Linked DNA regions of Homo sapiens. The protein of the gene in region 1 interacts with the protein of each later gene in a pairwise test. Each region holds a gene or a part of one and is shown in the gene's direction. Other genes may lie near its edges.

Region 1 (8,844 bases):
GAATTTATTTTTTTTCTAAGAAATATTTCTATATATTCTTCTTATTAATTTAGGTGGTTATTCCATGATACTTCTCTATTTTAATGCGTGTTTTAATTTTTAAGGTGGAACAGAAATTGTCACAGAGAGTGAGTACACCAGTGGACATTCAGTAGCTGGAGTGCTTGACCAGAGCCGAATGCAGCGGGAGAAGATGGTTTACATGGCAGTTAAAGATTCTTCTCAAGAAGAAGATGATATCAGTAAGAAAATAAGGGCACTGTAGTGACTTATCAGTAGCCATCATGCATTATTTTTAAAAAATCTCAGAGATACAAGCACTGTATAGGAACAAAGTTCAATAAAATAAGCCTGATCCTTTGACCCTTTGCTGTAAATAATTTAAAAGTGAAGGGTCCTTTTGACCATTCATTTGTACATGTATTGTTCAAATCACCAAACATTAAATAATATATCTTAGTATACTATACTAGAAATACAGAGATGAACAACATACAGCTCCTGACATCAGTGAAGCTCAAAAATATGTAATTACTGAGTACCTACTTTCTGTGCGTTACTGAATATGTTGCAAGATACTATCTCATTTAATTCTTACAACTCATATCTGAGGTAGGTGGTATTTTTCCTGTCTTATGGAAGGAAAAAAAAAGATTCAGGGAAAATAATTTATCCAAGATCATTCCAATATTAAGTGTGAAGGGCAGGATTTTAATGGTTATCTAACTCCACTGCCAATGTTCTTTCCACATGGCAGTGGGCACTGTTGGCTTCTCTCTGGATTTAGCAATTGAAGGGCTGATGGTTTGTTCTCCTGTCACTAAAGGGTTATCTTATGTAAGTATTCTTCCAAGCCAAGCTGCCAGGAGTTTGATTTCCTATGCTGTTGATGGTCTCCAAGCAGTTGCTGCTTAAGGTTTTGTGGGGCTAAGTACCACAGGACGATCAAACCTCCTCAGGTTTCCTTTCCTGCCATACCGCAGGTTTCCTTATGAAGACATTTTGCTCTCTGCCTACTTTCTCCTCACCTCAGTATAGGAATGCAGCCCTTTCCTAAGGCTATTCCTGTCTTCTTACTATGCTGAGAAAAACACAATATTGCCTTGCCCTAGAAGGCTAAGAGCCTCCATTTCACTGCATTAACTTGACAATATTGGGCTTTACCTGTGCTGCACTCTGATACCTACTCCAAGTTTCCTTCCCTAGAAGTTGTAGGGTGCTGAATTCCACCCCCAAACAGCTGAAAATATCAAAACAAATGAGTGGAGAAGATTCTGATGGATAGGAAAAGAGTTTAATCAAATAATTTCTATTTGATCTCTAAATTCTTTATTTTTTTATTTATTGGTAAGGAAAGGGGCACAGTAGGAAATGGAAGATTGAGGTTTAAGTTAACTTATGCCAGAATTCTATGGGAATGTGGGAAACTTAGACCAGTGTCTCTTTTTGGTTAATAGAGAGAAGACAAACTTGGGAGAAGAGGGATACTTTTTTCCCATGTTTTTCCCCACATTTCTTCTGTAGTCATCCAGGATCCCAGTATGTGAATCAAAGGAAAAGCAAAAATTCAAGACAATTTTCTATTTAACAAGTTAAATGTAAACAGATTATTTTATATAAAGTATATTGTGGCTCTCTAGGTTTAAATATTTTTTTTTTCTTACCGCAATATTGTTTTGTTCAATGAAGCTCATTTAATGCTTTCTCTCCTCAGTAGAATCTCTTAAAATCTGGCCTATTGAAGAGTGTCCACATATTCTTGATCACTAGCATTATATACATATATAATTTTTATTTTTATTTTAAATTTTTTTCAATTACAAGTATTTTTGGTGATTTTTATTACATGTATAGTACTGCATTTCATTTATAATACAGTATACGAGATAGTATGGACCACTTTCTAGTATTATTTCTATGAGAAATATTTTCTGAGTCCCAAAAGACTGTCAGGCAAATAAATGTATAATGCCTGATAGAATGTAAGATCATTCAGTATATTTCAAGCGCACATGTTTTTATAAAATTTTTAAAAGCCATTTCCATAGAACTTGGTTCTAAGAGGAGAATAAGAGTTTTGGTAAATGATTGTCTCCTAGTGGCACTAGCCTCCAAAAGTGCCTAATATAAATTGAAATTAAATTTATAAATTTTTAAATTAACCAAACTGAAATTTGAAAGTTGAAAGATTTACATTGTTTGGAATTTTTACCCACTTATTAAATATTTGGGGTTATAAACAAGCAATTATTTCTAAAATTTAGGTTGCGCTGAAATAGCAGATGAAGTTTACATGGAAGTCATTGTAGGGGAAGAGGAAGGAACTTCTCTCCCTGAGATTCAGCTTGAGGACTCTGATGTTAATAAAACAGTTGTCCCTGTTGTCTGGGCTGCGGCATATGGTAGGATACTGGCATTTTTTCACCTGATAAGTACATAATATGTATTTACTCAGCCTTTAGGCCATTAAATAAGCTTTGTGAATGCCACCATGAATTGGCTAATATAATAAAATGTTTTACACTGTGGACTGATTCATCTCTAGTTACTTTAGATGATTTTTCTACCACATACCTTGTACTATTTAAAATGAACCTTGCTTAATGCATTATGTTTTTCAGTATGATCTATTTTAAATCCTACCTGTATAAGTGAGTGCCATAAAAAATTTTATTTTTCTAAAATAGGAATATCCTTTGAAAATCGATCCTTCCTCTTTTGGAAAAACTTATTTCATTTATTAACTCTACAGATGATAAAGTTTTGGGGTTTTGAAAAAGAAACAGAAACCCAGGTATGCTCTTTTAGAAAGCATATAATGAAAGGTAAATTTATCAACTTATTTTTCCCTTTCAGTCTTATTTTATTTCATTCCTATGTAACGTACAAGATGGTCCAGGTATACTCTTTACTTTGAAAAATTTTGATGTTCAAATGCATTAATTTATCTAAACTTGGTTCTTCCAAAGGTTCATTCATTCAGTTATTTATTGAGCATCTTCAAAGTTAGGGGTACACTGCAGAAATATCTACCCAGTTTTCATTTAAAAAGTAAAATTGTTCTAGATGTTAACAATTCCAAGGATGCTGAACAGCAGCCCTTATTTTCAGTATGTGACATTATCTAACCTATAGGAGTGGAAGAACACAACAATTTTTTTTAACCCAAGGAATGGTGGGCAAAGTAAGATTTTGTAGATTAAGATGTGATCCACTAGTAGTCATTATAATTAGCATATCAGTTTGTAATTGGTCTTTTTTTTTTTTTTTTTTTTTTTAGGAGATGAAAGAAGAGTTTCCCGAAGGTATGAAGATTGTCAAGCATCAGGTAAGAGAGCATTGTATATGAGATGTGAGTTAAAGTTCTGGCTTTATTTTATTTTACTGCTTGGTAAGTAACAAGTTTGTGTCTACAGACACATTTGTTGGACTCTTACTTGCTTAGTCATACCTAATCTAGTTAGTTAGGAGTTTCTTCTTTGAGGAATTAATTTATGTGTGGACATAATGTGTGTTAATCTGTAAATGCAGTTCCATTTAGATTTCCCTCAAACTTTAAGCATCAGGCAGTTTATCAAATGGACCATAACAGGTTGCTATGGAAAAAATGAAATAAGAAATTATTTGGACAGAAAAGTAAAAATTATTCATGATATCAACCCCTTGTTAATGTTCTTTTTGGGGCAGAACTGTTTTCTTAATTTCTATGGCAACCAGTGCATTTATATATAACTGTTATATAAAACCCATGTGTCAGCTTAATTTTTTTTAGTTTTAATACACTCTATATGGTGTTGTTCTCTAGTTGATCTTCTTGTTAAGTTTTCTTAAGCAAGGAGATATTTTCTTATGATAATGTGTCATTGTTCTGTTTCTACCCTTGGGAAGTATTTGACTCTCTAAACTTAGGTGTTGATTTCGAGAAATTGATGAGAAGTATAGATCACAGCATGTAAGTTAACCTGACAGTTTTGTAGGTCTACATTTTTTAGCTAAATTGCATAAAACCACAATGGATTTTTGATAACTAGGATTTTATTAAGTACTTTTTAATGTATGCACTGATCACACTGAAATTGCAATAAATTGCCTACCATATGTTAACCCGTAAAATCAATCTTAATATGTAGTACTCTTTATATCAAGTACACTATTCTGAAGCATATCTGCAAGAGATCTGTTTCGTTTTTTATGCATTACACTTAGTCACCATAACTATAATGGTTCAGTAATATGTCTACATTTCTTTTTCAATTAATTTCATCAGCCTTCATTGGTAAAAAAAAATTGGTCTGATGCCAAGATTTTGTTTCAAATTCAGTTTCTTTTCTTTCTTTTTTTTCTTTTTCTTTCTTTCTTTCTTTTTTCTTTTTTTTTTTCAAGAGACAGGGTCTTCTTGCTCTGTTACCGAGACTGGTGTGCAGTAGCACAATCATAGCTCACTGCAACCTTGAACTCCTGGGCTCAAGCAATCCTCCCATCTCAGGCTCCTGAGTAGCTGGGACTACAGGTGCATGCCACCATGCCTGACCAATTTGTTTTTTGTAGAGACAGGATCTTATTATGTTGCCTAGGGTGGACTGAAACTCCTGACCTCAAGCAGTCCTGCCTCAGCCTCCCAAAGTGCTGGGATTACAGGTGTGGGCCATCATGCCCACCCCAAATCCACTTTCTTATATTACATTCATCTTATCAGTTTATTCCTGATAAAATAGAGATATTTTAAATTTAATTGATGATCAAATTGAGATATTTTAAAGTTAATTTCACATGATATCCTATTCAAAGTATTTACAAATACATGTCTTTACTTGTGAGTGAGAGAGAACAAGAGTGAGAGAGAGAAAGAGAATCATAAGATGGATATACTTTGTGAAATTTACTACCAGAGTGGTAACTTGGTGTCATGTCATCTGTAGTAACTCATTCAACAGAACCAAAAAAGTATAAATGTATGTGATTTAATGATGTTTCAATTTTTTTTTCCAGGAAATACTTTGGACTCAGCATTAGAAAGCAGAAGTAGTACAGCAGCACAGTACCTTCAAATTTGTGACGGCATTAATACAAATAAAGTACTTAAACAAAAAGCCAAAAAGAGGAGAAGGGGAGAAACCAGGCAGTGGCAAACAGGTAAATACTTTGCTTTATGAATATTATAATTATTTGAGATGTGGAAGTATTTTTTGTCACCAAAGAAAAATATCGATGGTTTACTTGGCAGTTCTACTCTCCATGTACCTGTTTGTGTATGCTATAGATAATTGTTTTTTTTTTTTTTTACTTTGTGTGACTGGTACTTAATAAAACTATGCTTGTTTGCTCTTTATTCCAAAGATACTTTTACAGAGAATTTTCAGGTTGGTTTAACAATAAAGGGTACCTGTTTTTGGTATTCAAAGTATATATGATATTGCATTTTGGCATGTGAGTGGTTCATAGTAGAGTGCTGCTCATTACTTTTTAGTGAGCTACTTTGCCATAAATTGCTTTTATTATGTATTTTTTATATTACAGGATTTCATTCAACTAGTATTGTTTTCACATAGTGAATGCCAACTAGTTTTGGCACCTTTGTTATAAAATCCTTTAAAACAGTCTGACCAAATGTCACAACTTTCTCTTTTCTTTATCTAGCTGTTATAATAGGTCCTGATGGACAGCCCCTCACAGTGTACCCTTGCCATATTTGCACAAAAAAGTTTAAATCCAGGGGATTCTTAAAAAGACACATGAAGAATCATCCTGATCATTTAATGAGAAAAAAATATCAGTGTACAGATTGTGACTTTACAACTAACAAGAAAGTGAGTTTCCATAACCACTTAGAAAGCCATAAGCTCATAAACAAAGTCGACAAAACCCATGAATTTACAGAATACACACGAAGATACAGAGAGGCTAGTCCACTGAGTTCCAATAAACTTATTTTAAGAGACAAGGAGCCGAAGATGCACAAGTGCAAATACTGTGACTATGAAACTGCAGAACAAGGACTGTTAAACAGGCATTTGTTGGCCGTTCACAGCAAGAATTTTCCTCATGTTTGTGTTGAGTGTGGGAAGGGTTTTCGACATCCTTCTGAACTCAAGAAACATATGAGAACCCATACTGGTGAGAAGCCATATCAGTGTCAGTATTGTATTTTCAGGTGTGCAGATCAATCAAATCTGAAAACTCACATTAAGTCTAAACATGGTAACAATTTGCCATATAAATGTGAGCATTGTCCCCAAGCATTTGGTGATGAGAGGGAGCTTCAACGCCATCTGGATTTGTTTCAAGGACATAAGACACACCAGTGTCCTCATTGTGACCATAAGAGCACCAATTCAAGTGACCTTAAGCGGCACATCATATCTGTCCATACTAAGGATTTTCCTCACAAATGTGAGGTCTGTGATAAAGGTTTTCATCGTCCTTCTGAGCTCAAAAAGCATAGTGATATCCATAAGGGTAGGAAGATTCATCAGTGCAGGCACTGTGACTTTAAAACATCCGATCCATTTATTCTTAGTGGCCATATCCTTTCAGTTCATACTAAAGATCAGCCATTGAAATGTAAAAGGTGCAAGAGAGGATTCAGACAACAAAATGAGCTAAAAAAACATATGAAGACCCATACTGGAAGGAAGATTTACCAATGTGAGTATTGTGAATACAGCACTACAGATGCATCTGGCTTTAAACGACATGTGATATCAATACATACAAAAGACTATCCACACAGGTGTGAATTCTGCAAGAAGGGATTCCGAAGACCATCAGAAAAAAATCAGCATATTATGAGGCACCACAAAGAGGCTCTTATGTAATAAGATCAATATAAAGAAAGAAGCTATTTAGGAGATATGATATGCTACTTGGGAGAAAACTCTCACTAACTGTCTCACCGGGTTTCAAAGCTTGATACTAAACCATGACTTTACATTCTTTGTATTAAAGATCTTAAAATATTTGAATTCACAGGGGATCCCATAGCCCTTTGAAAATTACTTAAAGAATTTAAGAAGCACTATAGAATGGTTACAGAAAAACTTCTTAAGTATCTGTGTAATAGTATTATATGCATACTTAAACTACAGAGGGGAAAAGCAAAGACAAATACTTTATTTGGCTGATTATGTTAGATACAAATGTTTCTGAGAAGAGAATACATAATTGAGTTTAGTGATGCTTTGCTATAGCAAGCAAACCCACTTTTATGCAATTTTAGAAATGGGGCAGGGAAACAAAATGTGGTCATTCATCAGTCACTTAGTCATTGAGCCTTTTATATTGTACCTGGAAATTAAATTCCAGCAATGACAAAAGTTTTGTGTATTCATTAAAAGAAAACTAACTGGAAAACAGGTTAGATTAATTCAGTACTATTAAAAAAGAATTCAGAGCTGTTAATATTTTATCACAGGATAGGATACTTAAAATATAGCATTCTGTGCTGAGATCTAAGGTGAAGTCTATAAAGATTAAAGTTCCCTTTTTTCTGATGTTCAAGTTGATTGTTGTTCAGTATGGCATATATGACAAAAGTATATTTGAGTCAAATGTGGCTTTCTAAAATGGATGCAACATTAGCGTTGCAAACAAAATCAGCACTATATTTCTTAATGATCTAAAGATTAATTTGAGAGAACACAGTTTTCTTAAATATTATAATGTCTAGAGTTTTTTTAGGACAGTCTTAGCAAGTATGATTGTTCTAGTCTTACTTGCTCTAATGTTTAAAGGTGCAATTTTATGCCATTATTGAAATTGATTTTTAAAATCTATATACCATATGATTAACATGCATTTTCAATATGAGGCAGTGTTTATGCAGTATTTAACAGAGCAATCTGCTGCCAATAGAGTTTGGAGGTGGATATTTAGTTTACAGTGTATAAACTTAAAATATGCATCCCTTTAACAACGCTTTGTGTTAGCATGCTGCAAATCAAAATGGCACTTAATATTAAAAGCTGGTTTAGGGAAATTTTATGAAAATCCTGTTCATAAATGTAATGCATATGATATGTACTTTTAAGTTTTAGTTGCTTCATGTTTACATTCAGCTGTTCAACATAATTAAAATGTAATTTTACTTCATGCTATATTGTGGCTTTGTGTTTCAAATAATGTTCACCTTTCTGTTTTTGCACCAGATAAGAATCAGTTCCTTGAGAATAAATTTTTTATCTTTCTTAACTTCAGAATATTAAATTTGGAATATCTACTAAAATTGTGTGTTATGTGGCTGTAAATGATGTACACGCTGTAAAATAAGATCGCTACTGTTATGTGGGATTATTATTTCTAAATGTTACTCATTGAAATGAGCATACAATAAAAAGCATTTATTGCACTTAATGGTTTTATAAGTTTATTTAAAGTTTCCATATTTTTTATTAAAAGACTTCACTTCAGAGTTACTTAGGCAGATTGGTCCTTTCTTTAATGTCTTGTTGAATTTTGTTCATGAACAACAACATGAACTAGGAATTTAAACAGTTACGATGACTATGTAATGCATATTTCTTAAGAATGTATGTTATTTGCTAAAATCATAATGAAATACTATAAATAAAAGTGTCCATTTTAAGATCTTAGATTTCATATTAGAGAGAAAACTAAAAGTTCTTAACTTGCTTAAATGACACAATCCTGAGCAGTGAATACATCTAATTATGTTCCCAATATACATTCAAAAGGAAAAGTATTGTTGTGTGTATTTGGCAAAGATTTCTGCAAATGAGCATAAAAATAACTTTCTATGTTCAAACCAGTGAGCATTTCATATAATTCTATATATATGGCACTGTTAGTTAAGACTCTTTGTCAGTTGAATTATTAATTATTAATTAA
Region 2 (9,977 bases), about 31 Mb from region 1:
TGCCTCTCAGGCTCAAGCAATTCTCATGCCTCAGCCTCCTGAGCAGCTGGGACTGCAGGCGTGCACCACCATGCCGGGATAATTTTTGTATTTTTAGTAGAGACGAAGTTTTCGCCATGTTGGCGAGGCTGGTCTCGAACTCCTGGCCACAAGTGATCCATCTGCCTCAGCCTCCCAAAGTGCTGGAATTACAGGTGTGAGCCACTGCACCTGGCCTGGCTTATTGTTCTATTTTTAGAGACAGGGTCTCACTCTGTTGCCCAGGCTGGAGTGCAGTGGTACAATCGTAGCTCACTGTAACCTCAAACTCCTGGGCTCAAGCAATCCTCCCACTTCAGCCTCCCAAGTAGCTAGGACTACAGGCACATGCCACCACACCTGGCTAACTTTTTAATTTTTTGTAGTGACAGGGTCCCACCTCACCCTCCCAGAGCAATGGGATTACAGGCATGAACCATCATGCCCAGCCAAAGGAGGTTCACATTTTTTTTCTTTTTCCCTCTGGGAGGTTTACCTTTATCCTTTAATCAGTGTGTGCTTTGAGCATTGGTGAATTAGGTTCTTATGTGATGGCAAGCAAAATCTGGCTTCATAAAAAGCTAGAAGCAGGAAGACCAATGAGAGTACCTTTGGAGAGCTTGGAGGTAGGGAATATGGCTAGCCTTCGGATAAATGTCTTAGTGACACCTTCTCATCCTGTTTCCCTTGCAGCCCGCGTGACCCCAACTCTGCCGAAGCAGGACCGTCCTGTGCGTGAGGGGACCCGGGTAGCCTCTATTGAGACAGGTTTGGCTGCAGCAGCTGCAAAGCTGGCCCAGCAGGTAGGTGCTGACACCCCAGGTCACCCTGCAACTAATAGCAGTTTGACTTAGAGCCTCAACACTTAGACCTGCAGGCTGATAGGATCCCACCTTTGTCTCAATGGGGATTGAGTAACCTTTGATCTTTATCCTTGGCAGTATCCCAGCCCCCTCTTAAATCCCTCTTATCCCAACTCAATGATAAGCTACTTCCACAGGTTACACAGTTGACATGATTCAGGATGAAAGAAAATATTAGGCCAGAGAAAAACCCACTTACCTTTTTTGGTGTGTAAAAACCTCTCAGATGAGAAGGACCAGATCCTTCCTTTGCTCTCATATGAAGCCCTGAGGGGGTGACTCAGCTGAGTACGCTCAAGTTCTCAGCCACCCACCAGTATTGGAATTTGGTTGATTAGAAATTTTTCTTGTCCTCTTTATGAAATAATATTATCTTAATCTTCACCCACAAATTTTTTTTTTGTCCTAAAGAGTGATCTTCACTAGAATCAAATTCATCTCCTAGCATTACATCTAAAAGTTCTTTAATGTGCGTAATGTGCTTAGGAGCCTTTGGAGGTGAATTCTCTGGTTATCTTGCAATCAATATCCCGTTAGCTCCTAATCCCATATCCTATAGCTTAGAGCACTGTTAAGCATCTGCTTTGTTAGTTGCTTCCATATATAATGTGTAATGTAATCTATCTGCCCAATAGCCCTGTTCAACAGGTGATATTTTCATCATTTTATAGGTGAAGAAAATGAAGCTCTCATTAACTGACTCAGGATAATACAGCCAGTAAATGGAGGAGACAACTCAAACTCATATCCTCTAACTTCAAATTTCATATTACTTTCTATTTAAATAAATGCTTATGTAGTTCAGTCATTACATCCTATTTAAATAGTGTTTAAATCTTTGGCAATCTTCTTTGACCAGAACTTCTGTCTCTTATGTATATCCCAATACAGTGTAAGCTGTAATTTGAAAAAGGGGGTTCTACTGTTTTATATAAATATAAATTAAGTAAAGCTGTGAAAATTACTCTTAGTGCCTTTTAAGGAGCTAAATTCTGTTTGGGATGATCAGAGATAACCTCAAAGAAGAGGTTTTGAAATTGGGGAGGGGCTTTGCAAGCTAAGCTTCTGGTAGGGGCCAGGGAGGCATTCTAAAAGAAGGGACTTCCTTCGTATAGCACACAAAGCCCTCTTAAAGTCCTCTTGATTTGGTCTCTAGTCATCTCCCTGACCTCCTTCCAGCCCCTCATGCACACCTTTTATACAGCCATAGTGCACTGCAATACTCATAGTCCCCTCAGTGAGTATATCAGATTGTCTCATGCTTTTGTGCCTTTACACAAGATGTTCCTTTTACCCATTGAGAATCATACCCTATCAGATCCCTTACCTAACAGCCCTTCATACTACCTACCACCACTTTATTTCAGAGGCCTTTTTCTATATGCTTCTACAACATTCGTGGTACTTACAATCATAAATGTATGTTTTGGTGTTTCTTATTAAACTATGAATACTTCAAGAGTGGGAATATATTTAATTTAACTTGGTATCCCCACTATGGTCAGAAAATGTGTTTAGTCAGTATTGGGGTGGGTGGGTGAGTGAATGAATGAATGAACGAAAGAAAGAAACAGATCTTTCTGTATTGGAGATTTCATGTTGGGGAATTAGTTAAAATAAGTAATGATTATAAGAATGGATTCTAGAGTCAGCCTGCTTGGATTTAAATTATGTAATAGTTCTACCATTTGGGCAAGTTAATTTCTCTTTGCCTCATTTCCTCATAGACTTCATTTTAGGATTAAATGAGGTAATGTACGTACAAGCTCTTTTAGAATGGCAGTTGTTATGGAGTAAGTACTATAGGCCTGTTAGCTTTTTTCATCATTATCATTATGGGTTGGCTAAGTGTAAACAGCCAGACTGTGGAAGATCATGAATGTCAGGCCAGGGAGTTTGAACTTGGGCGGGGATCTGCTAACAGCTTTTTGAGCAACGGGATTGGCAAGGTGAAAGTGGTTCTGTCATAAGATGGTCTAGTTGTCTGTGGGAGTATCTGGATAAATTATATGTGAAAGAGATTGGCAGCAAAGGTAGCAAAATTTAGGCTAGTGATCTAGATATGAAGAGGTAATTCTGGATTTAAGTGAGAGAAAAAGGGACAGAAATGCAGTTCCTGGTATGGTTAGAATAGCAGTTTGGCTGAGGGAAGAGATTCTGAAGCCAAATGGCTTGGATGTGAATCCCAGTTTGACCACTTACTGGTCCTGTAACCTTAGGGAAATGACTTAGCCTCTCTGTGCCACAGTTTCTTCATCCTTCAAATGGGATTATAATTCTTACTTCTTGGGTATTTACAAGTATTAAATGAGTAATTATAGAAGAGTGGTTGACATGTATTACTAATATTGTTATTATTGTACCCCAGAAATGCCCGTGGTAGCCACAGCCTGTGAGATCTTCCGAAGGCAGGATTAGGCTTGTGTTGCCAAGAGAAGGCAAAAAAATGTGATCACTGAGTTGGTTTGTGTGGCTGTGTAGCATTTCAGAAGGTGAAGTGATTTACATGCTCTCAGCACCACCTTTCCAGGTTCTCAGGGCTCCAGATGCCCACTATACAAGTGTCCACCATGCAGTGGATAGTAGATCCATAGGGCAGTGGATGGTTGAAATACAAGGTATTGGGAGAAGTGACACAACTCCTTATTTGTCATTCCCATCCCCAAAGTGAGGTTTTTAGACCCAGTGACCTGGAGGATTGTCAAGCCCACTGTTAAAAGAAAAAGACCAGCAAGAGGAAGTGAAGCCATTATAAGAGATGAAGATAGAATAATAATTAACCACTTGTCGAATATCTACTATGTGCTGTGTATTTTTATGTCATCACTTAATCTTTTCAAAAATCCTAAAAAGCAGATATTATTTTACCTGTTTTATAGATGAGGTAGCTGAGATTCAGAAAGGTTAGTCAGTTTGACCATAGTCATCCAATTTAGGGACACAAGCCTGGATTTGAACCAGATTTATCTCATTCCAAAACTAATAATCTTTCTAATCTTTCTACGCTCAGATTTTCCACTTTGAGAAGTTTGCAAGGTGTCTCTTCAGATAGACCTGGTTAGATAGTGGTCCCAACTACTTTTCAGCTGTGAGGCTTTGGGCTCAAGTTACTTAATATCCCTGCACTTCCATTTTCTCATATGTAAAATTAGGATTTTTTCTTCTTAGAGCTGTTATGAGGATTAAATGAGATAAAGTATATAAAGTGTCTCAGCTGCTGATGTAAATTTAGTTATTATCATTAGACGTGTCCAAGGTCTACCTCATTAGTGGCAACACTAGGACCAAAATCCTAGTCTCCAAATTCATTTACAGCTTTCTTGGCACTGTACTAATAAGTGACAGTGGTGACTTAAGGATGGATGGTAACAAAGAGATGATCTCAGGTATTGGAAGGCCTGTTATGTGCTGTGTGTACATCCAGGCTAGACTTGGTGCAGGTAAGGGAGAGGGTGGCAGGTTGCACAACCATATTGGACATTGTCTAGTTAGTTCCTTTCCTGGGAACTTGTCTTCTTCACTCCTTAATCTCTCCTCCTACTTGGCTTGTGTTTCAGGAGCTACAGAAGGCCCAAAAGAAGAAATATATCAAGAAGAAGCCTTTGCTGAAGGAGGTAGAACAGCCTCGCCCTCAAGACTCCAATCTCAGTCTGACAGTACCAGCCCCCACTGTGGCTGCCACACCACAACTTGTCACCTCCTCCTCACCCCTGCCTCCTCCTGAGCCTAAACAAGAGGCCCTGTCAGGAAGTCTCGCTGACCATGAGTACACCGCTCGTCCCAATGCCTTTGGCATGGCCCAGGCAAACCGCAGCACCACACCTATGGCCCCCGGTGTCTTCTTGACCCAGCGGCGCCCTTCAGTTGGCTCCCAGAGCAATCAGGCAGGACAAGGTACAACGGCCATATGGTTGTAGAACCGAAGGATCTTAGAGCCACCTGCCCTAAATCCTAAGTGCTCTAGTAGATGACAATACCAGGGAGGGACACTGAAGGCCAACCTAAGGTGCTTGGATTTGATCTTATGGGCCATGGAGAGATGTTGACTGATTTGAAGTACAGACAAGATCAGGTTTTAGTTTTGAAAGATCCTTCTGGTGGCCAGAAGGAGGTAGAGGGTGGGCTAGAGATGGGAACTCTAGGGAGGAGGCACATATACAAGTTCAGGCAGGCAGGAAGAGTACCTGGGGCTCTGCCAGAGGGAATGGAGAGGAAGGAGATGAACTGATCAAATATGGAGGCAGTCAAATAGGACATGGGAGGGGATTTAATGTGGGGAGACAGAGACAACAAAGAGTTAGAGGACTGAAGCCTTCCTTTCCCTCACTTTGGTCCTCAAAGCCCAGTCCCTAGAGTACGCAGCTCAAGGGCATGGAGGTTGGTGTGATGTTGAAGGCTGATGAAGATGAGAGTTTCTAATGAAGCAAGGCCCTAGGGATGGCAACTTCAGGGACACTGAGCTCTAATCACTAACCAGGCACTTGTCCAGTCCTGGTGGGTAGGATAAGAGGGTATGGAAGTACATTTACCTCCCTGCAGGATCTTGGAAGGAAAATGATTGGGACCAGAGTAATCAGTGGAGAAAAAGAACTAGACAAACTGTAATCAGGGAGTCTTGCTGCTACAGGAGGTCATAGGAGGAAGAGTCAAAGCATGTGGTGTTGGTTGGAAGTAGTTAAGGAGGGCTTCCTGCCCAATATGGTCTAAGGATGGAGAAACTTTGTGGGTAGAGAAACAGGAAGGGGAGGTGGCCTGAGGGCAGTTGGTGCCAGATTTGATGTTGAAGCCCTTGCCAAAGCCCTTGCTTACTTTTCCCTTCCCCCACAGGAAAGCGTCCCAAAAAGGGCCTGGCCACAGCAAAGCAGAGACTCGGCCGTATCCTGAAAATCCACAGAAATGGCAAACTACTTCTGTGAGCCCTCCTGTGTCCCACCCCTCACCCCTTTACCCCCATTGCCTTCTCCATTGTCAACTCTTGGGGCACTCCTGGATCCTATCTGCCCTGGACAAGGTGCTGAGGTGCATTGTCCTGCTTTCTTGGGACTTACCAAAGGCACGGACCCCTCCACCGACTCCTTCTAGTTCCCTTCCCCACTTTCACTAGAGCATCCTGCCTGCCTTCTCCACTGAGGAGCAGGTAAATGGGAGAGGTTTCCAGCTGACTAGAACCCTCTTTTCTACTCGTCCAAACCACTCCCGTCACCTGCCTTGTCTGTTCTTTATTCTTCATCCCCCGCTAGAGCTGGAAGGCAGGATGAGGAGAGGTATGAAGGAGCCTGAGCCATGAAGTGGGAAGCCCAGTGCTTGACACTTTCTGCAACTCTAGCCCTATATCCAGAAGCCTGCCCACCTCCACCCATTCTGTTTGCCCCATTTCCCCAGTCCAGTGGACATGCCCCACCTCCAGACTTGCTCATGGGAGAAGGCTGTGGTCTCTGCCCCCTCTTGCCAAATGCTTCATGGAAATGAAGAGGAAGGCCTAGAGCCTCCTTCCTGCCCCACTGTGGGCCATTTCCAGAAGTGGCCTAGAAATGCCAACTTCACTTACCTTTCAAAAGAAAGGTGATTCCTATCACTTGTCAAGGTAGGGAGAGGTCAGATGCCCAAGCCTTTGACCACGGTTTTGTAGCCTGTTGGAGGAAGCTACTTTTAGCTGGCTACACATGAGGCCACTTGTTTTAGGGTGAGCTCCAGGGATTTGCCTGGATTTTGAAATCATGTAGAACATTATCCACGTGGCTGTGGCTGTGGCTGTGGCTGGGCCCTGGCAGGTGGAAAACCATCTCCCAGAAACCTGAAAGCACCTGCCAATGACGCAGATAACCCTGGCCCTACAGCCTGCTTGCTCCGCCTATACCACAGAGCACAGCCTGGACATTATGGAGGGTGTGGCGGGACGGCCCACACCTGGGTCCTCCATCGGGAACTTTTCATGCTTCTTTCTCCACCTGAGGTCTTGGTCTGAAGAAGACCTCAGGACTCACATCTTCACTCCTGGGCCTTTGCACTTCCAGACGACAGGTCATCGTTCAAGCAGAATGCAGACAGGCCATTCACGAGCCCAAGTTGAAGAGAAGAGACGCCCATCCGTGAAGGAGCAGACCATCCATCCGATCCTCCCCTTCCCCTGTCCTTCCTTCGTGGATTGTCTCCATTGTCCAGACAGTGCCCCCACCTCCCACCGCCTTGCCTCACTGGCAATCTGGACTCGATGGAGAACATCCCCCCACCTCCATTTGGCACTACCCAAGTGGAGTGTACCCTTGCCCTTTCCACCTGTACCACCCACTCCAACCTCACCCCAGCTTGCCCAATGCTTCTGGGGAATTTAATAGCTACCATGCAGGCCACAGGGAATTTGTGAGGCTTCTTTTGTCATCTTTGTATCTCCAGTTTGTCTTTCTTTTCTCCATAGCCCTGCCTCTACTTTCCTTCCTTGGAATCAGGGGTTCCTTTAGCCCATTTGCTTTCTCTACCTTGGGGACCCCAGGGGCCAAGCAGTTCTCCATCTAGTCACACCAAAGGCAAAAAGCCTGGCTACCTCCCCCCTAGCACGTGAGTCCCTACTCCCCTCCCCTCTGTTTCTGCCCAGCTTTGCTTATTTTGGGGATTTCAAGGCAGCAGAGGGTAGTGAGGGGAGAGCAGGAGAAGCCTCTGTCCTGTATAGGCAACTGCCTGACTATGCGGTGACTGCTGTAACCAAGATCAGGTCCCCAGCCCTTTTGTCCATTAACACCCCTTCTTGATCTTTCAAAGGCAGCTAATTGCTAGCAAATCCCCCCGATTCCGGCCTTTTCCCTCTATTTCTTTGTTAGAAGTTTTCTGTGGAGCTGAAACCCAGCCTCTGTTTGACTGGGTTTCATTTAGCTTAGTTGGGTTCTTAGAGCCCCCTGTTTGTTGTTTTGTGTTGTTTCCAATGAAAAGCAAGTTTACCCTCAGAGTTATGCTTTTCCAAAGAGGCTGATGTCTTTGTTTTTGTTTTTTTTAATGTTTCAGGTTCTAAGTGAAGTGAGTTGGGGAGGGGTTGGGAGTGTTAGTAATCAAGGTTTAGAACACCATGAGATAGTTACCCCTGATCTCCAGTCCCTAGCTGGGGGCTGGACAGGGGGAAGGGAGAGAGGATTTCTATTCACCTTTAATATATTTTTACAAAAAAAGCAAACAATTTAAAAACAAGCCCACCGCTTCTGTACATGTCTAAATATATTTTTAGAAGTGGGTAGGATTGTGAATTTCTGATGCAGGGCCTTTTTATAAATAGGTTAGGGTAGCATCATTCAGACTTCTCTGTTGTTTTTGTCCCTGTCTTTTTCTTATGTTGTGTTACTAATGTAATTTATATTTTTTTTAGATCCTCCCTTTCCTATAGAGATAAAAGTGATTTATCTTGGCAATTGCTTTGCTTGGCATTCTTTTTTTTTGTGATGAGGGTGGTGGTGTGGTGCAGGGTCTGGGAGTGCTGCCTTCTCCTTGTACTCTTTGTCTCTCCCTCAGCAAGTTGTCAGGCATTTCCCTGGTGCTCAGCCTTATGCTTGAAGTGGGAAGGGTATTCCCACCCTCAGGAGGGACACGCTTCACACACCTGAAGTAGATCATCAGAAGCAGACTGAGCAGAAAAGAAAGGGTGCAATAATTCAAAGGGGCCTAACAAGTTCAATGGGAGGGCTTTCCAGAGACTGCTTTTTCAAGTGTGTCCTCTTTCTGTGAATGTGGGATTTTTTTTTTCTTTCCCTCTCTCTTCCATGCACTTGTTGTGCAATCTGGACTTGATTACTGTGCTTAGGGCCAGTACATGGGTTAGAAGAATATAATTATCAGAGCTTGTTTTCACGATTATCGCACTTGTTTTCTTGTGCCAGGCACTGCTCTTAATACTTTATTGATTCATTTCATCCTCACCAACACCCTCATCCTGCCAGCGAAGAAACAAAGTAACCTTCCTGTATCATACATGAAAATTCTGGGACCAACCTGGTTCCAGAATGTGTATTCTTACCACTCTGTTCTACCACTTCTCACTGATAAACACTACCATTATATTAAGTGCCTTTTGGGTGCCAGGCATTGGGCTAGGGATTTTACTTAGGGATATCTCATTTAATCCTCACTGAAAAACCCCATGAGGATATTCGTCCTATTTAACAGTTTAAGGAGACTGAAGTTTGCCAGTGGTCTGCAGCAGGATCTGCCTGATTCCAAAACTTATGTTCTTTGCCTTCACCATATTAGAAAATCTTCTGAGGCTCAAGCACCCAACAGATCTTTATTAAGCCTCTGTTATGTGCAAGATGCAGAATTGAGAGTTATCTCCTAAGGAGAGCTCCCAGGGTGATCTTGGGAGCCTCAGTTTCAAATTCACCACCACCCTGACTCTGTGGGTGAGCCAGGGCAGGCTGCTTACTGTCTGTGGGTCATCTATTAAAGTATTTTGAACCCAGTCAAGATTTACTTCCTCCTGGAGATTCTGCTTCTGTGGGTCTGGAGTGAGGCTGTCTGGTTTTGGCACCTACTGGTTAAATGACCTCCTCCAGTTCTCACAGTCTGTCTCAGGAGTAGGTGGGGTTTTGATAATGTTCATGTCTGAAGCATAGAGAACTGTATTTCCTGGTAGAAAGGAAACAGGAAAGAAGGGCTTTAAAGCCTTTGCAGGAATGATGGGCTGGGTTATTTTTGTCACCAATTCCCACCCCACCTTCCTCAGTCAAGGGACAAAGCACTTTTTCGTGCTTTGTTTTTACCAGCCTCAGGTTAGAGGATAAGCTAGAATCTTGGTCACCTTATTCCTCAGTCCAGGCAGGAGGTGCCAGCAGTTCAGAGGTTCCTGTCTCAAAATTGGGAGGGAAACGAGGCACCCAACTTCAGTCATCCCCCTTTCCAGTATGGAGTGGAAAAGTGCACAGGACTTGTGGCTAAAGAGCCCTCCTTCTCAATGACTAACCAAGTAATTTGGGAGAAACTGCTTGTCTGTGTCTTCAGTTTCTACATTTGCAAGATGGAATTAACTATGAAGCCCTCTAGAAGCTTGGTTGCCCCTAAACTTTCTGGATGCTGTTAATTCCCAAACCGAATCCTCTAGCCCTAACTTGTTCTGAGTGC
Region 3 (5,985 bases), on another chromosome or scaffold:
CCCCTCGTGGCGTGGCCTCACTGGAAGGTCACCGGGCGTGGGGGTTTGGGCCCGGGGCACCCGCCCACCCGCACTGTCCTGACAGCCTGTCTTCTCCCCCACTGCGCGCTGCACGCCGCCAGAGTGACGACGAGGACCAGGGGCACCCAGGGAGTGGCTCAGATTAAGTGTGAATGTCATGGTGAGCTCCGTGGCCTCCTTGACCCCATGGCCCCAGCTGACCCTTGCCACAGACCCTCCCTGTGTGTCTGTCCCTGCCTGTAGTTGACGAGAGCCGTCCGCACTCCATGCCAGCTGTAGATCCTCAGTAGCACTGTCTTGGTGGTGGGGCTGTTGCTGTGAGGCAGATGCCCAGGGGCAGTGTTGGGGCGTTTGTTGGGATGACTGGAGGGTGCCCGTGCCAGGCCAGGCTGTGGACATCAGTGGTCGTGAACCCAAGAGCCCCTCCTGGGGGCTGGGCAGGGAGTGCCACTCGTGCCGCCAGCCCTAGTGGGTGACCTTCCTGTCTGGCTTAGGCCACAGGCTCAGGGCCAAGGGGTCAGGACCAGTGCGGCAGACAGCAGACCCCTATCTCAGCTGCCAAATCCTGCGGCATCCCTGATGCGCTTAAGCCTCCCAGGCCAGCCGTGTCCTGCAAGCCCCTCAGCCACCCGGGCCTGCCTGCCTGTGGGGGTGTCTGGCCATGGGGTACAGCCTCAAGGGCCCCCTGGTTGGTGTCTGCAGTTGGACCTTCCTGTGGAAGATGGCCTAGGGAGACAGTGTGTCCAGAAAAGATGGGTCTCACCCCAGGCTCTGTCTAGAGTAGCCCGTGCTGCTCCCGGCCTTGGGAGGGCGAAGGACAGCACTTTGGCTGCAGGTCTCCAGGGTGTCTCCTGCCCTCATCAGGAGGGAGCTGTTGGGGCTCCCGGATGCTCAGATGCCACACTGCTCCTGGCCTGTCCGCTGCGCTACTTAGTTTTACACAGGGCTGGTGGGGGCTTGGGGGCTGCACTGTCTCCCCAAGTCAACTCCAGACATCCCAGTAAACTTGGGAATCACCCTGGCCCAGGGAGGGACGTGCTGCCCCTCGCACAGGGGGATGGGCTCCTCCGAGGCACTGGAGAGTGAGTGGGAGCCTCGAGCTAGAAGTGGTCCAGGGCACTGAGCCTGGGGGGCACCCGCCTGGGAACGGCAGAGCTGTTGGGGGGTGGAGTATTGGAGTCAGGCTGAGCAGCTCAGGGGACGTGGCCTCCAGGAGCCTTCGGAACAAGCCTGGGGTGGCATGCACCTCTCACCACTGCCCTCTCTCCGGTCAGTGCGGCATGGCAGTGACCTCTGGGAGGCTGTGCCCGGCGAGGGCGTGGGCGTTGCTGCCCTACCTGGTGTTGGGCAGCCCTCACGTGACACATGGAGACAGCTGTTGTGGGCCACGCACAGTGAGGCTGGCTGGCTCCGAAGCTCTCTGCTCGGGAGCGTGGGGTGATTTCCCCTCCACCTGGTCTCTGGAGCTGCCATGGCTCATTTTGGGAGTTCACCTCAGCAGCATTGGCCAGCGCCTGAGCCTGTCCTCAGGGGAGCCCAGGCCGACTTGGGGGTGGCCTCAGGGGGTTCCTGGACACTGGTGAGGGAAGTGGGGAGGGTACCTTGAGGAAGAGTTTTGAGGAGATTGGAGGGTGGGGAGGGCAGGGGGCCGAGGGGCCGTGGGCTCTGCAGGGCTGACGTGGTACAGATGAGGAGGGGATCCCCGCAGCGTGATCTGCACTTGGGGTAGGGCCCTCTGAGGGCTGGTGGTTGTTCCATGGGGCAGTCGGGAGGGGCCAGCACATGAGGTGGGCTGGCCAGGCTGAGGTGCAGGGCCGAGGGCTTGGGTGAGGGGCATCTCCAGGAGGGTCCGGGCGTCGGGGTGGGGGTGGGGGCTGCAGTGGGCATGGAGGAACAGAGGGAGAGACTTAATTGGGGAGGGGGGACTGGACTGCTGAGGGACCCGCGGGCCGAGTTGCGCTTCATGTCTGAGGCCCAGGACTGAGTGGGCTGAGAGGCCCAAGAGTCAGCGCCTTTGGGTGGGTCTGGGAGGGGCTGCCATGCACAGTGAGCGCTCCCTGTGTGGGGCCTGGAGATGTGCCAGACACCCCGGTGAAGGTCCTGGGCCTGCCAGCTGAGTCCCCAAGACCCTGGCCAGTGCCGCTGGGTTCCCGGGGCTCCCCGAGCTAACCCCAGGCCTGTGGGCTCTGTTTTCTGGAGCAGGCGCCTGGTCAGGGACACCTCCTCAGCCCAAGTCCTCATTTTATGCATTTGGTGTTTTTCAGATTTTGCAAGAACGAGGCTCAAGGATGTGAGGGACACAGTATTGACAGCTGAAGAAATGATTTACGTTTTCCCGAGATGTAATGAACTGCCATGTCCAGGAAGCTTGGCTGTGAGAAGAAACCTGCTTTTGATCATTTTTCTAGAGATCTGGGTGTGAATCCTTTTTTGCCTCTGAGGTGGGTGGTGAGAGACGGGCCCAGCTGTCCAAGGCCAGACGTCCCCAAGTTGGGGGAGCACGGCGGCCGGGTGGGCGCTGCCTCTTGGGGGGGCCTCGCTCTGTTTTTTCCAAGTGCCACGTGGGACTGAGGCAGACACTCCCAGTCAGCCCGCTCGATCCTGAAGATCGTGTGAAGGAAGCGTTCTTGGTGCTACACACAGTCTGGAAAAGCAGCCTGGGCTTCACTGGCAGGAAGCGGCCGCAGCCGCGTCAGTGTCCAGCACGTCGTGGCCTCTGGTCCGACCACCAGGCCCTAGTCTCGGTCAGGGAGTCTGCTCTGCCTCCCAGGCGGGATCGCTGGTTTCTCTCGACCTCGCAGAGCTCCTGACAAAGGCGGCTTCTGCGTCGTCACTGCTTCCCGGCGCCATTCCGAGGCCGGGCCTTCTTCTGACACGGGCTCCAACCCCACCTGACCAAGCCCGGGACAGTCAAGGCTTCTCAATTTGTATTTTCCAGGCAAGAGAACTTTGTACCCCTTCTCTGTGTGGATAGACTCCCCAGCGTTTTTCCTCTGGAAATGCCCACAGGGCTTGCCGCGTGGAGACTGATCTGTTCCATCCGTTAGCGCGAGGTAGCAGTGTCGCCTCGCCCCTCCCACTGCGGGCTCACGGGGAGCTGGCGTCTGTCAGTGCCTTGTCACGCCTGGCATAGAGGTTGGGCTGGAGGCCTGTCCACTGGCTTCTGGAGCTGAAGGTCTGCGTCACGGTGAAAATTCGGGATGTTTACAGAGCATCACAAATGCCTCTCTCTCGCCGCTCTCTCATTTTCTTTGTATAACTATGCAGCCTTCCCTCTCTTTCTGGGATGTTTGGGACTTCACTCGACCTGCACGGGCTCTGCCCGACATGCCGTGGGAGCTGCTGGGATTCCTTTAGAAACCGCTGCCCGCATGCTTTGAAAACAGACCTTTCTCAGCTGGCTGTGGGGACCTGTCAGAGTCTGGGGACTCGGCGTGCAGGGCGGGCTCCAAGCGCTTTGCTTCCGGAACTCCGGCTTCCCAAGGGGTACTGTGCAGACTGACCACCGGCCTCCCGCCTGCAGGTCAGAGGCTCTGACACTGTCTGGTTTCCAATGCTTCTGGAGACTTCCTGCCTAGGCCTCATCCTCCTCTTTGCCAGTCACCTGATTAACCAATTCTCCAGCATTAGGACTTACCTCCTTCTTTTTGTAAGGTCTCTTGTATGTTGTTAAATGTTTGGCTTAAACAATTTATAAAAGCCTTTCTAGAAGGCAGACTTAGCCCCAGCAGAGCCTGGGAGGAAGGCGGCCGCTGGGGCTCCTGGGCATCCTCTCTGGGGAGCTGCTGGCCGCTTAGCGTTGTTTGATTTTTGACCTTGACATAGTAGATAGGCTTGTGGTTTTTTTAATTTAAAGATATTAAGACTTAATTCACTAAAATTTATTCTAAGGGGATATTTATACTTTTATACTTTTTTAGGTATCGTATTTTATCAGCTTACAGTTTAATGCCTAAGTTTCCCCTGGAAATAGCAAATAAAATTGTGTATTTATGAATGCGCGTAGTAGCTGTTTATGGTCTTAAGATGCAGGGGAATGCCACCCCGGGTCGCTCGGACCAAGGTGCTGCCCCTCCAAGCCGCCCAGCCCCACTGGCCGCGGCGGCTCACTCAGGGCTCTGCCTCTGCCTCTCAGTCGATGGCCAGGGCGGAGCTGGGCCATCCACGGGGTGCCGGCTTGGCCAGGGTCACTGGATCAGAGCTGCACGGCCCATCCCTGCACCCCACTCTGCCTGGACCCCTCACCTACCTCCAGCAGATAGCATACCCCCATCCCGGGAGACCGGAGACCATGTACAAGGGCCTTTTTTTTTCCTTAAGAGACAGGGGTCTTGCTATGTTGCCCAGGCTGGTCTTGAACTGCTGGGCTCAAGTGATCCTCCTGCCTCAGCCTCCTGAGCAGTTGGGATTACAGGCGTGAGCCATTGCGCGCGGCTCAAGTGATGTTTTTTTGAAAGTCCTGATACCTCAAGTTAGCATCCACCTCTCTTCCCTCACTTTAGCCTGCAGCCTGGGTTGTGACAGCAGGAGCTTCCCGAGAAGGTCCTGGGGTCCCGGCACCCCCTCGCCAGCTGCTGTGACTCCTCCTGGTGGCTGCTCCACGAAGCCTTGGCTGTTGGACTCCCCGCCCCCCCGCAGGGAGATTCCCATTCACGGTGTCCCCCAGGGCCTGGCTGTCTGAGGTCACAGAGCCTCAGGCTGTAGTGGCCTTGTCCATCCTGTTTCCAGGTGTGTGGCTGGCCCAGCCTGACCCCAGGGCCCTGGTGAGGGGTGGAGTGGGTGACTGGGCTTCTGGGTGCCCAGCATGAGGCCGGCACGGGGCTTGGAGTAGGGGAGAGACCCAGTTTCTGCTCCAAGGGGTCTTCCCGCTGCCCGACTCCCACCAGGAGCCTGGCTAGGCCTTACAGCCCCTTGACCAGGTAGAGTTGTGGGCACTTGGGAGAAGCCTCAGCGTGGCAGGCGTCCCCAGCCAAAGCCCGGAGCAGGTTTCCCATCCAAGCAAAAGGCTGTAAAGGAGACAGGCCCTGCAGTTTGGGTCCTGAAGCCGAGGATGCTCAGGGCCGCTGGGTCTGCTGGGCAGGGAGGGAGCCCTGTTCCTCCTCAGACCTTGGGCTCCAGCACAGCCCGCCCGCTGTGGGGACTGGGGCCCAGCCCTGTGGCTCCAGGAAGCCAGCGTGGGGGCAGAAGAGGAGGCAGGGGCGGGGCACATGCAGGTGCCCTGCGTGGGTGCCCGTCCTCCCCAGGCTTCCTGTAGAGCCCATGACTGGAGCCCTCCAGCGGCTGGCACCACCCTCCTTGACATCCCTGCATTTATTGGTGTCCACTCAGCAGGGACTTCTAGCACCCTCCTTCCTCCTAAAGCTCGTGGCAGTGGCCGGCTGGGGCGATGAAGAGCTGACCCCACAGTGCAGCCACCAAGGCCCTGACGTGGCATCTGTGTGAGGGACGATGACTTCCGGCACCTCTGCACTGAGCCGTGCCCCCCAAGATGGGTCACTTTGCCCTCAGACCACCTCTTCCTCCCCAGTGTTCCCAGGCCTGGGGCTCGGCACAGGGAGGCCTGGCCTGTGGCTGACCCCTCACCGCAGTTCTGGCCCGAATGGAGCCCACAGACTTCTTTCCTGGGGCTCCCGCTCCTGCTCTGTGTGTGTGTGTGTGTGTGTGTGTGTGTGTGTGTGTGTGTGTGTACCTACTGGCTGTACATGGTGTGGGTGTGGTGTGTGCCTGTGTGCACATGGTGTGTGTGGCATGCACATGTGTGCTGTATGTGATGTGTGGCATGTGGTGTGTGCTTGGTATGTGGTGTGTGCCTGTGTGTGGCATGTGACATGCATGTGTTGTGTGTGCCTGTGAGTGGCATGGGAATGGTGTGTGTATGTGTGCACATGGGCCAGCTGAGCCTGGGGATGAAGGCTGCCGCCCGCTCTGCCTACCTCCCTGTGAGCCACAGAATGTGCGCGGGCC

What was found.
Region 2: the proteins of ZNF711 (region 1) and PHF8 interact in binary tests that used the Homo sapiens proteins (3 or more experiments, as listed by UniProt).
Region 3: the proteins of ZNF711 (region 1) and KCTD5 interact in a two-hybrid assay, tested with the Homo sapiens proteins (one study listed by BioGRID).

The regions. Positions count from the first base shown.
Region 1 is NC_000023.11:85,265,014-85,273,857, forward strand, and holds the end of ZNF711 (zinc finger protein 711), read left to right. Parts: intron 1-104; coding exon 105-242; intron 243-2,264; coding exon 2,265-2,402; intron 2,403-3,280; coding exon 3,281-3,328; intron 3,329-4,989; coding exon 4,990-5,133; intron 5,134-5,637; coding exon 5,638-6,815; 3' UTR 6,816-8,344; downstream 8,345-8,844. UniProt on the Homo sapiens protein: Transcription regulator required for brain development.
Region 2 is NC_000023.11:53,934,978-53,944,954, reverse strand, and holds the end of PHF8 (histone lysine demethylase PHF8), read left to right. Parts: intron 1-711; coding exon 712-821; intron 822-1,552; coding exon of another isoform or gene 1,553-1,591; exon of another isoform or gene 1,592-2,340; intron 2,341-4,438; coding exon 4,439-4,775; intron 4,776-5,708; coding exon 5,709-5,797; 3' UTR 5,798-6,895; coding exon of another isoform or gene 6,896-6,974; 3' UTR 6,975-8,275; downstream 8,276-9,977. UniProt on the Homo sapiens protein: Histone lysine demethylase with selectivity for the di- and monomethyl states that plays a key role cell cycle progression, rDNA transcription and brain development.
Region 3 is NC_000016.10:2,705,013-2,710,997, forward strand, and holds the end of KCTD5 (BTB/POZ domain-containing protein KCTD5), read left to right. Parts: intron 1-2,285; coding exon 2,286-2,315; 3' UTR 2,316-4,018; downstream 4,019-5,985. UniProt on the Homo sapiens protein: Its interaction with CUL3 suggests that it may act as a substrate adapter in some E3 ligase complex. Does not affect the function of Kv channel Kv2.1/KCNB1, Kv1.2/KCNA2, Kv4.2/KCND2 and Kv3.4/KCNC4.